3 separate regions of the Homo sapiens genome follow, and regions 2 and 3 are each linked to region 1. Evidence: fine-mapped expression QTL. A gene starts in region 1. Each other region holds a variant in brackets. All regions are shown on one strand. Distances are from middle to middle.

Region 1 (2,760 bases):
TTCTTCCTTTTGAGACATGGGGGTGGGGGAAGAGTTTCCTGTAAAAGTCCGCTTTTTCAATCTGCTTAAGAGATAAGGAATACAATTCTGGAGATACTTCTTAATTCCTTGCTTTTAAGCTTTCCTTTTGTTTTCTGGTACTGTCCTCCACCTTCCTTTTCAAGCCAGTCTGTGCTTCTGAAATGCAGATCTCCGGATAATTAGTCCATGATGGGCAATAACCAGCCCGGACATCCTTGAGAAGTACATCGACAGTAAAGGACCCCTGCTGGGAAGAACAACTTTTCATAAAGGAGTTGCTAATTACCAGCATCTCCATCCCAGAAGGGTTAAGAGCCTCGCAGCAGCACAACCGCTACCTCTCGCCTTTTAACGCCAATTCTTTCGGAACTGGTGTGAACGTGGAGTGGGAGGAGAGGGGGAAAGGGACGCACTCAACCCCGTCAGACTAAGAAATCAGGCGATCTATATATCCCCAAGTTCACCACGCCAGCCAAAGGAGGCATCTCATGCCAAGGGAGGCAGCTCAAGAAGCCATTTCCAGGAAAGCTGCATTACAAAATGTAATTTATCAGAACGAGTCTCCTCCGAGTCTCCTGACGGCCAGGCCCGGCGGCTTCGGGAGGGGGGGGAGTTGCTGGGGAGAGTTTACCTTAGAAGGCGACAACGAACAGACAGGCCTTTCAAAGCCACCCAGGGCTCTGCCCCGAGGCCCGAGGCTGCGTGGAGGGGCTGGAGAGGCGCGAGGCTGCGAGCCCCCCGGCGCCACAGGTTCCCCGGCGCGCGGCCCCGCCCGACTGCCACAGGTGGGCGGCGCTCCGCCTCTGGGCTCCCGCGGGAGGGGGCGCGCGGCTCTCTAGGGACTCGGGGGAGGGGGCCAGGGCTAAGGGGTACGGGGACGGCTCTGCCTTAAGGAGGGCAGCGTGAGACGGAAGCTCCGGGTTTTCCCTGCCTAGTTCTCGTTCCCTCGGCCGGGTGGCTCGGGCTATTCCTCGCGACAGGAGGAGCGGTGGAGAGGAGCCGTGGGCACCTCCCACCGGCCGCCCCTGGAGCCTCGGCCTCCTCCCCAGGCGCGGTTAAGCCGCGCGGCCGCCAGCTGCATGCGCCCCGGCACGTACGAGCCTGCACGACCACACGCGGGCGGGGGAAGGGCGCCGTGATCCGGGAGCCCCAGTCCCTCCAGGGCCTCACCCCAGCCCAACGCGGCTCGCCCCCGGCCCTCGTCCCCGCAGCCCCTCACCGGTGCTGGCCTTGATGTTCTCCCGCAAGAAGTGGCCGCTGGAGAGATGCTGGAGACCAAAGTTCTGGGCGATCCTCTGGCACACGGTGCCCTTGCCCGAGCCGGGCGGCCCGAGGATGACCGCGCGCAGGAGTTTGGAAGCCATTGCCTTCGCGAGGAGGGGGGCGGTCAAACGCGCAGCCCCGACCGCGGCCCCGGAGGAAGCCCCGGGAACTTTGTTTCTCGGCCCCCTACCTCTGGCACCCTCCGCTCTCACTGGGACTCGCCGGCCGCCCCTACAGGGGGAAGGAGAGACTTTTAAGACAACCCCTCCCCTCAGCCCAGCGCCGGGACCGAGTAGCAGGCGGACTGAGCGCCACGCTACACCTCCCCGCCCTTCTCCACCTCCTCGCCCTCCTCCACCTCCTCGCCCCCACGCAAAGCTGCTGAAGCGCGCCGTGCCCCGCCCTGCCGACTCGGCCTCCAGGGGTCAGAGGTCGGCCCGGCCAGTCCCACCTTCATCCTTAACTCCAGCTCGCTCCCCACGCCGCGTCCGAGAAGGGGGCCGGGCGGCCAGGCATCCCCAAGCCAGTCTCCGCCGAGCCGGGGAAGCTGGCACAAGCGGGGGTGACTCAAAGCCAGCCCCCGCCGCCCCACGCACCGGGCGGCCTAGGGGCTGAGCCCCTGCCCGGTCCTCGCACGTGGGCAACGTGTGGTCTGCGTCTCGTCCCCTCCCCGGCGGCTGTCACATCCCCCGGAGTCTCAGCTGCCGCCGCTGCCCGCCGCCCGCGCGCGCTCGGAGGGGCCCACCTCCGCCCGGGGTTGGCGGATGCGCTCCCCGGCCATGGGGCGCGCGACGAGCCCGAGCCCCGCGCCTCGCCACCAAAAGCAATCAAATAAACACACACCTTGGCTGGAGGCAGCACTCCGAGAGGCTTCCAGCCCGGATCCTGCAGGGCGGCGCCGCCTCCGCCCGCCCAGTCGCGGAGCCCCGGCCGGCCGCGCGGGACTCGCGCCTTACGTAAGCCCGGGAGACCGGCTCCGCGCGAGCCGCTGGCCGCCGCCCCCTCCCCTCCACTCCACTCCACTCCCACCCAGCCTGCCTGGCCCACGTGCTCCCTGCGACCCAGCGAGGGCTGCGGGGGCGAAGCGAGGTGCAGACCACGCGAGGTAGAGAAACCCCTTTTTTTCTTTCGCGGTCGCCTGGGGACCGCGGTCTACTGCAAGGGAAGGGAAAAATACAACTTGTTGAGCGCCTACTGTGCGCCAAGTTTGCGGCTAGGTGATTTCATTGTGTTTACAGCCGAGGAATGGAGCGTGACCATTCATTCATTGATTCATTCTGCAAATGTTTATTGAGTGCCTACTGTGTGCCAGAAACTATTCTAGGCGCTTAGGATCTAGCCGTGAACAACAGATCGAATCCTGCTCTCAAGAAATTGCGTCCTAGCGGGAGGCTGGAACCCAAGACTGACTGACTCCAAAGTCTAGGCGCCTTAGGGAACAGGGAAGAAGGGGATGTCCCTCACCTGTGTTCAGGA
Region 2 (2,760 bases), 93 kb after region 1:
GAAGGCTCAGGTAATTTCATGGAACGTGTTTTAGGCTCAGAGCCTAATCGGGTATATTACCTCATCCTAGGCTCATGTCTGTATCTGGGAGCCTGTGGATGTCTGACTGGTGTAGGAACCCAAAGCAGTGACCCATATGCTTGAGCAAAGAGAACAGAGATGGCTGAGGTTAGGCTGTAATTTGAACCTACCTACCACAGAGAGAAGAGGGGCCAGGGAGAGAAAAACCATTTGTGACTTTTTTTTTTTTTTTTTTTTTTAAAGAAAGAGTCTCAGTCTGCGGTCAGGCTGGAGTGCAGTAGCTCAGTCTTGGTTCACTGCAACCTCTGCCTCCCGGGGTCAAGTGATCCTTATGCCTCAGCCTGCCGAGTAGCTGGGATTACAGGTGTGCACCACCATGCCCATGTAATTTTGTATTTTTGGTAGAGATGGTGTTTCACCATGTTGCCCAAACTGGTTTCAAACTCCTGTCCTCAAGTGATTCTCCTACCCTCAGCCTCCCAAAGTGCTGAGATTACAGGCATTGAGCCACTGCACCCGGCCTCGTGTGACTTTTTAACATACTGTGAACCTTACCTACTATCAGCCCTGCCAACTGCATGTCTTAGATATGGGTCAGGTGTATTATCAGGTCCTCCACTGGGACACAATGGGGAAGAAAGGGAACTGAAAGGGAGTAGGCCTCGTACAGAGAGGTTCTTTCTTATCCTTCATTGTGCCAGTCCTCAGACATTGATGGTCACTGTGTTCCTTTGCTGGTGATTGCAGTTCCCTTTAGTGTCTCTTCCCTCTGCTCTACCCAAAGAGGAACCATTCTTAGTAGTGATCCCTTGAGCCACACTTGGTTGGCCCAGAACTGTTATTTTTTCAGACACATTGACCACATTATAGCCCAGTACCTTCACATGTCCTCATAGATCCACAATTTCTCTAAGCTATATAAGCTACACTACGTTTTTGATTAATTAGAGAGAGGGGTCTCCCCAGTTATTATGCTACCACTCCTGAAATTCTTTGGAGTTTTCTTAAAAGGAATTTCTGACAGAAACTCTGGAAGAACTTTTAGGAAGGGAAAGTTAGGGATTGGTGAATCCTCAAGTAATTTGAAACACTCCTTATGTTTAGTGTTTGAGCAGGTGGAAAAAAGTGCTTCAAGAAGTTATGTGTTGTGCAATCATTGGCCTTGGTGAAGATTTCACCACCTTCCCTGATCTTCCTGTTTTCCCCGTTACTAGTTTTA[T/C]AAAAATTCATTGGGTTTTATACTTACCCAACCTTGACCTCAAAATCTACAACCAGGCCTGTGGGGTGTTGAAGAACTGAGTGTTGGGTGTCATTTGCAGTCACCCTGCACTACGGACAGAGTCATGCTGGGTCCCCTTTCCTCTAAACAAGAAGGCTGAGGCTTAGTCTGCAGCAGGAGCTCCAGAAGCTTGCCTGGACCTGGAGGTCTTTGGCATCTTCAAGGCATTTCATAGACGTAAGGTGTTCCAGCAGGTTAAGAGAGAAGTGATGCAAGACAGATCCAATGGGGTTTTTCCACTGCCTTGCTTAAAACACAGTGTGTGTTTGGTTGGTATATTCGTTACATTTTTCAGTTTAGGTGAAGTATGTGAGATGGTAAGATTGCAATTAAACCTAGGAATACCGTATAATCCAGCATTTCCACTTCTGGATACATACCCAAAAGATGTGAAAGGCGGCACTCTGACAGATATTGTATACCCATGTTTATAGCAACATGATTCACAATAACTAAAAGGAGCAACCCAAGTGTCCATTGATGGATAAGTAGATAAATGAAATGTAGTGTATACCTACATTGGAATATGATTCAGCCTTAAAAGGAAGGAAATTCTGACATATGCTACAACATGGATGAACCTTGAAGATACCATGCTAAGTGAAATAAGCCAGACATAAAAGGGTGTATACTGTTATGATTCCACTCACATGAGGCTCCTAGAGTCGTTAAATTCATACAGCCAGGAACTGATGGTTGCCAGGAGCTGGGGGAGAGGGGGGAATGGAGAGTTAGTGTTTAATGGAGTTGTATTTGGGGAAGATGAAAAAATTCTGGAGATGGATGATGGCAGTTGCACAACAACATGAATGTGCTTAATGACACAATGTACACCTAAAAATGGAAAATTTTATGTGTATTTTACCACAATAAAAGAGATTCAGGATAATAACCCTCTTGAAGCCAAAAACAGGATTTAGTTGATTTCTCTGCTCTCCCTTAGTTTTCCGTGTGAAGATAACTGCTGTTTCAAGTAAGCAATTAAAATGTAATTGCCATGTCTTTATGCATTTCAAGTTCTCTAATCTGAAGTCCTTTACACATGTTTCCAGGGTTTCCAACATAGCATAGCTTTAGAATTGTGTAAAATGTAAAGAAAACTCAATATAGTAGCAATGAATATTAAAAACAATGAGAAAAAGGCGTGGACAAGAAGTCACCTGATGTGGCATCTCTTGCTGGCTTTATGTCTTTTCTGGTGAGATTGGGCAACTCACTGGTCCTCTTCCTGTTCCAGTTGCCTCAACTGCCCACGTCTTTGGAGTTATGCTACCACTCCTGAAATTCTTTGGAGTTTTTTTAAACAGAAAAGGAATTTCTGACAACCTATGGAAGAACTCATAAGAAGGGAACGGTCTGGGATTGGTGAATCCTCAGGTAATTTAAAATACTCCTAATGTTTAGTGTTTCAAATTACTTGAGGATTCACCAATCCCAGACCTTTCCCTTCTTAGGGAAAT
Region 3 (2,760 bases), 45 kb after region 1:
TAGTCTGCCAGTCTCCAACTTGCACCCCTTGGCTCCATTAGCATTATTGCAAAAAGTCCACAAGTCTATGTAGGCATTTAGCATTGGGTTCAGGCTGAATAAAGGTTATGTCTTGCACAAATAGGTTCTATTTTTCAAGCCACAAGTGGCTTAGAACACTGACTCTAGAGCCATGCAGCCTGAGTGGAATCTCAGCTCCACCAGTACTAGTTGTGTGCCTTTAAGAAAGGCACTTTCTGTGCCTGTTTTCTCATCTGTAAAACAGGGATAACTATACTTATTTCACAGGATTACATGAGCTAATACTTGTATACTTTTTACCATAGCATCTGGACTATAATAGGCACTATATAAATGCTAGCTAAAGAAAACAAATAAAAAGTAAGCCAGGCATGGTGGTGCATACTTGTAGTCCTAGCTACTTGGGAGGCTGAGGTGGGAGAATCACTTGAGTCCAGGAATTTGAGGCCAGCCTGGGTGACACAATGAGACCCCATCTCTAAAATAAATAAATAGAATTCAACTAGATGATCTGAGAGAGAATACGGAGATTCAACAGAGAAGTGATGAGAAGCACTGAAAGCAAGTTAGGAGATGGAAGCAAGACAGTTTGTTTGGCTCGGATCAGCTGGGAGCCAGGAAAAGCCCCTTGATATGGGAAAAGGGTAAGAAAGAGCCCCAAGGCTCCACATTCCCACCACAGCCTTTTATAGTCTTAGCTATAGGGGAACCAACCCACATGGGCCTTGAGACTATCATAGGGAGCTGCCTAAAGACTGCACAGAGGCCGGGCGTGGTGGCTTACACCTGTAATCCTAACACTTTGGGAGGTCAAGGTGGGTGGATCACCTGAGGTCAGGAGTTCAAGAACAGCCTGGCCAACATGGTGAAACCCCGTCTCTACTAAAAATACAAAAATTAGCCAGGCACGGTGGTGGGTGCCTGTAATCCCAGCTACTTGGGAGGCTGAGACAGGAGAATTGCTTGAACCTGGGAGACAGAGGTTGCAGTGAGCTGAGATTATGCCACTGCATTCCATCCTGG[A/G]CAAAAGAGCAAAACTCTGACTCAAAAAAAAAAAAAAAAGGCACAGAGGCATTGCTCCAGAGAGGGAACACACACAAAGTCCCACAGGCATCCATGTCCTAAGCAGCTGCAGCTTGGTGCTATTCTGAGAACCAAGCTCTCAAAGGTCTGCATCCTGCCCTAGGGTCTGGGCTGTCGCTGTCATCACTGGGCTAAGGTGGGAGAGGGGAGGCTAGGCGGTCCCATGTACCCCAAGGAAAATTCCCATTGCTGCTGTGGCAGAATGCTGTGGGACCAAGGCATGAGCAAATTACACTGCCCACAGTTACCTGCCTTGGCTGCTCCAGCAGAGACAGGCTCCACCTTCAATGGTGGCAGGCCCACAGTGTGGTCACCATTGCCCACATCTGAGCCACGCTGCCCCTTCCTATTGCAGCCAGCACCTGAATGCACTACCAAGGGGGACTGAGGACATGTCTACCAGCCTGGTCTCCTTCCACCAGTACTCAAGTGTGCTATCCAGAGGTTGGGTCAACCCAACCTGCCAATACCACCACAGCTATCACCCAACTGGATGTATCACCAGGGACCAGATATCACAGCTATCACCCAACAGCATGTACCACCACAGCTATTACCCAACTGCATGTATCACCAGAGGGACTAGCCTGCACAACCTGTCACAGCCACTACCAACACCACCATGGACCTCCTGGACTCCAGTGGGTTTGTTCTACCACTGCTACTGCCATGGCCCACATCACACCAGCTGCCAAGGGGCCTGATAACTTGCACATACGCCCAACACACTGTTGCCACAACCAGCATTTAAGCAAGCCATCTAGAAGGCTAAGAATCAGCACTCCAGGACCCACTAACGTTGGTGCCAACATAGGTCCCCTGAGGCCCACAAACAGGCATGCTTGGCCCACCACTACCGCCACTGGGGCTCAAACACTGGCCCGCCCACTTGGCACCCTAGTTCCAGCAAAACCTAACCACAGACTCCAGTAATAACCAAACCTGAAGCCACCAAAAAAGCATGGATGCCACTGATGCCATTTACAGCTGAAGAAACACAGCCAGGCTGGGTGCGGTGGCTCACACCTGTAATCCCAGCACTTTGGGAGGCCAAGGTGGGTGGATCACCTGAGGTCAGGAGTTCGAGACCAGTCCAACCCATACGGTGAAACCTCGTCTCTACTAAAAATACAAAAATTAGCTGGGCATAGTGGCATGCGCCTGTAGTTCCAGCTACTCAGGAGGCTGAGACAGGAGAGTTGCTTGAACCCCTGGGAGGCGGAGGTTGCAGTGAGCCAAGATCGCACCACTGTACTCCAGCCTGGGTGACAGAGTGAGATTCCATCTCAAAAGAAAAAAAAAAAAGAAATCACATAGCCCACATGCTATTGCATGCACCCCAAATCAAGGCCAACCAATGATCCTATCTAACCAACAACATATACACATCTTCAGGGAAAAATCTTCCCCTACAAAGCAATTTCAAAAAATTAGAAGAAGTGACAATTATGCTAGATATGCAGATGTCAATGCAAGGACACAGGAAACATGAAAAAGCAAGAAAATATAACACCACCAAAGGAAAACAATAATTCTCCAGCAGCAGATCCCAATAAAAAAGAAATTCACAAAATACTGATTTTAAAGAACCTTGGTGAGCTACAAGAGGATTCTGAAAAAGAATACAGAGAAATCAGAAAAACAACTCAGGATATG

Which allele goes with the higher level. Positions count from the first base shown, and alleles are read on the strand shown. Sizes are in standard deviations (SD) of each study's normalised expression. Not every link is listed here.
With allele A in place of G in region 3, the expression in subcutaneous fat of the gene that starts at base 1,590 in region 1 is lower (moderate effect, 0.44 SD a copy in TwinsUK).

Evidence for each region. PIP is the estimated chance that this variant, and not a neighbour inherited with it, causes the effect.
Region 2: its variant is the best candidate, but not a certain one, in a credible set for the expression of AK4 in whole blood (TOPMed, PIP 0.68).
Region 3: its variant is the best candidate, but not a certain one, in a credible set for the expression of AK4 in subcutaneous fat (TwinsUK, PIP 0.85).

What each region holds. Positions count from the first base shown.
Region 1 is chr1:65,147,033-65,149,792 of GRCh38, reverse strand. It overlaps AK4 (adenylate kinase 4), which reads right to left and starts at 1,590. Exons shown (of 5, transcript NM_013410.4): 1 at 1,241-1,590. The coding sequence starts at 1,385. RefSeq lists enhancers at 1-341, 342-1,060 and silencers at 654-933, 994-1,293, 1,674-2,173, 2,184-2,423.
Region 2 is chr1:65,054,424-65,057,183 of GRCh38, reverse strand. It overlaps a transcript of JAK1 not described here. Among named protein-coding and RNA genes, the nearest start is that of MIR3671, 2.0 kb to the left of the region's middle. The variant T/C (reference allele first, on the strand shown) is at 1,241.
Region 3 is chr1:65,102,367-65,105,126 of GRCh38, reverse strand. No RefSeq gene overlaps it. Among named protein-coding and RNA genes, the nearest start is that of AK4, 44 kb to the left of the region's middle. The variant A/G (reference allele first, on the strand shown) is at 1,045.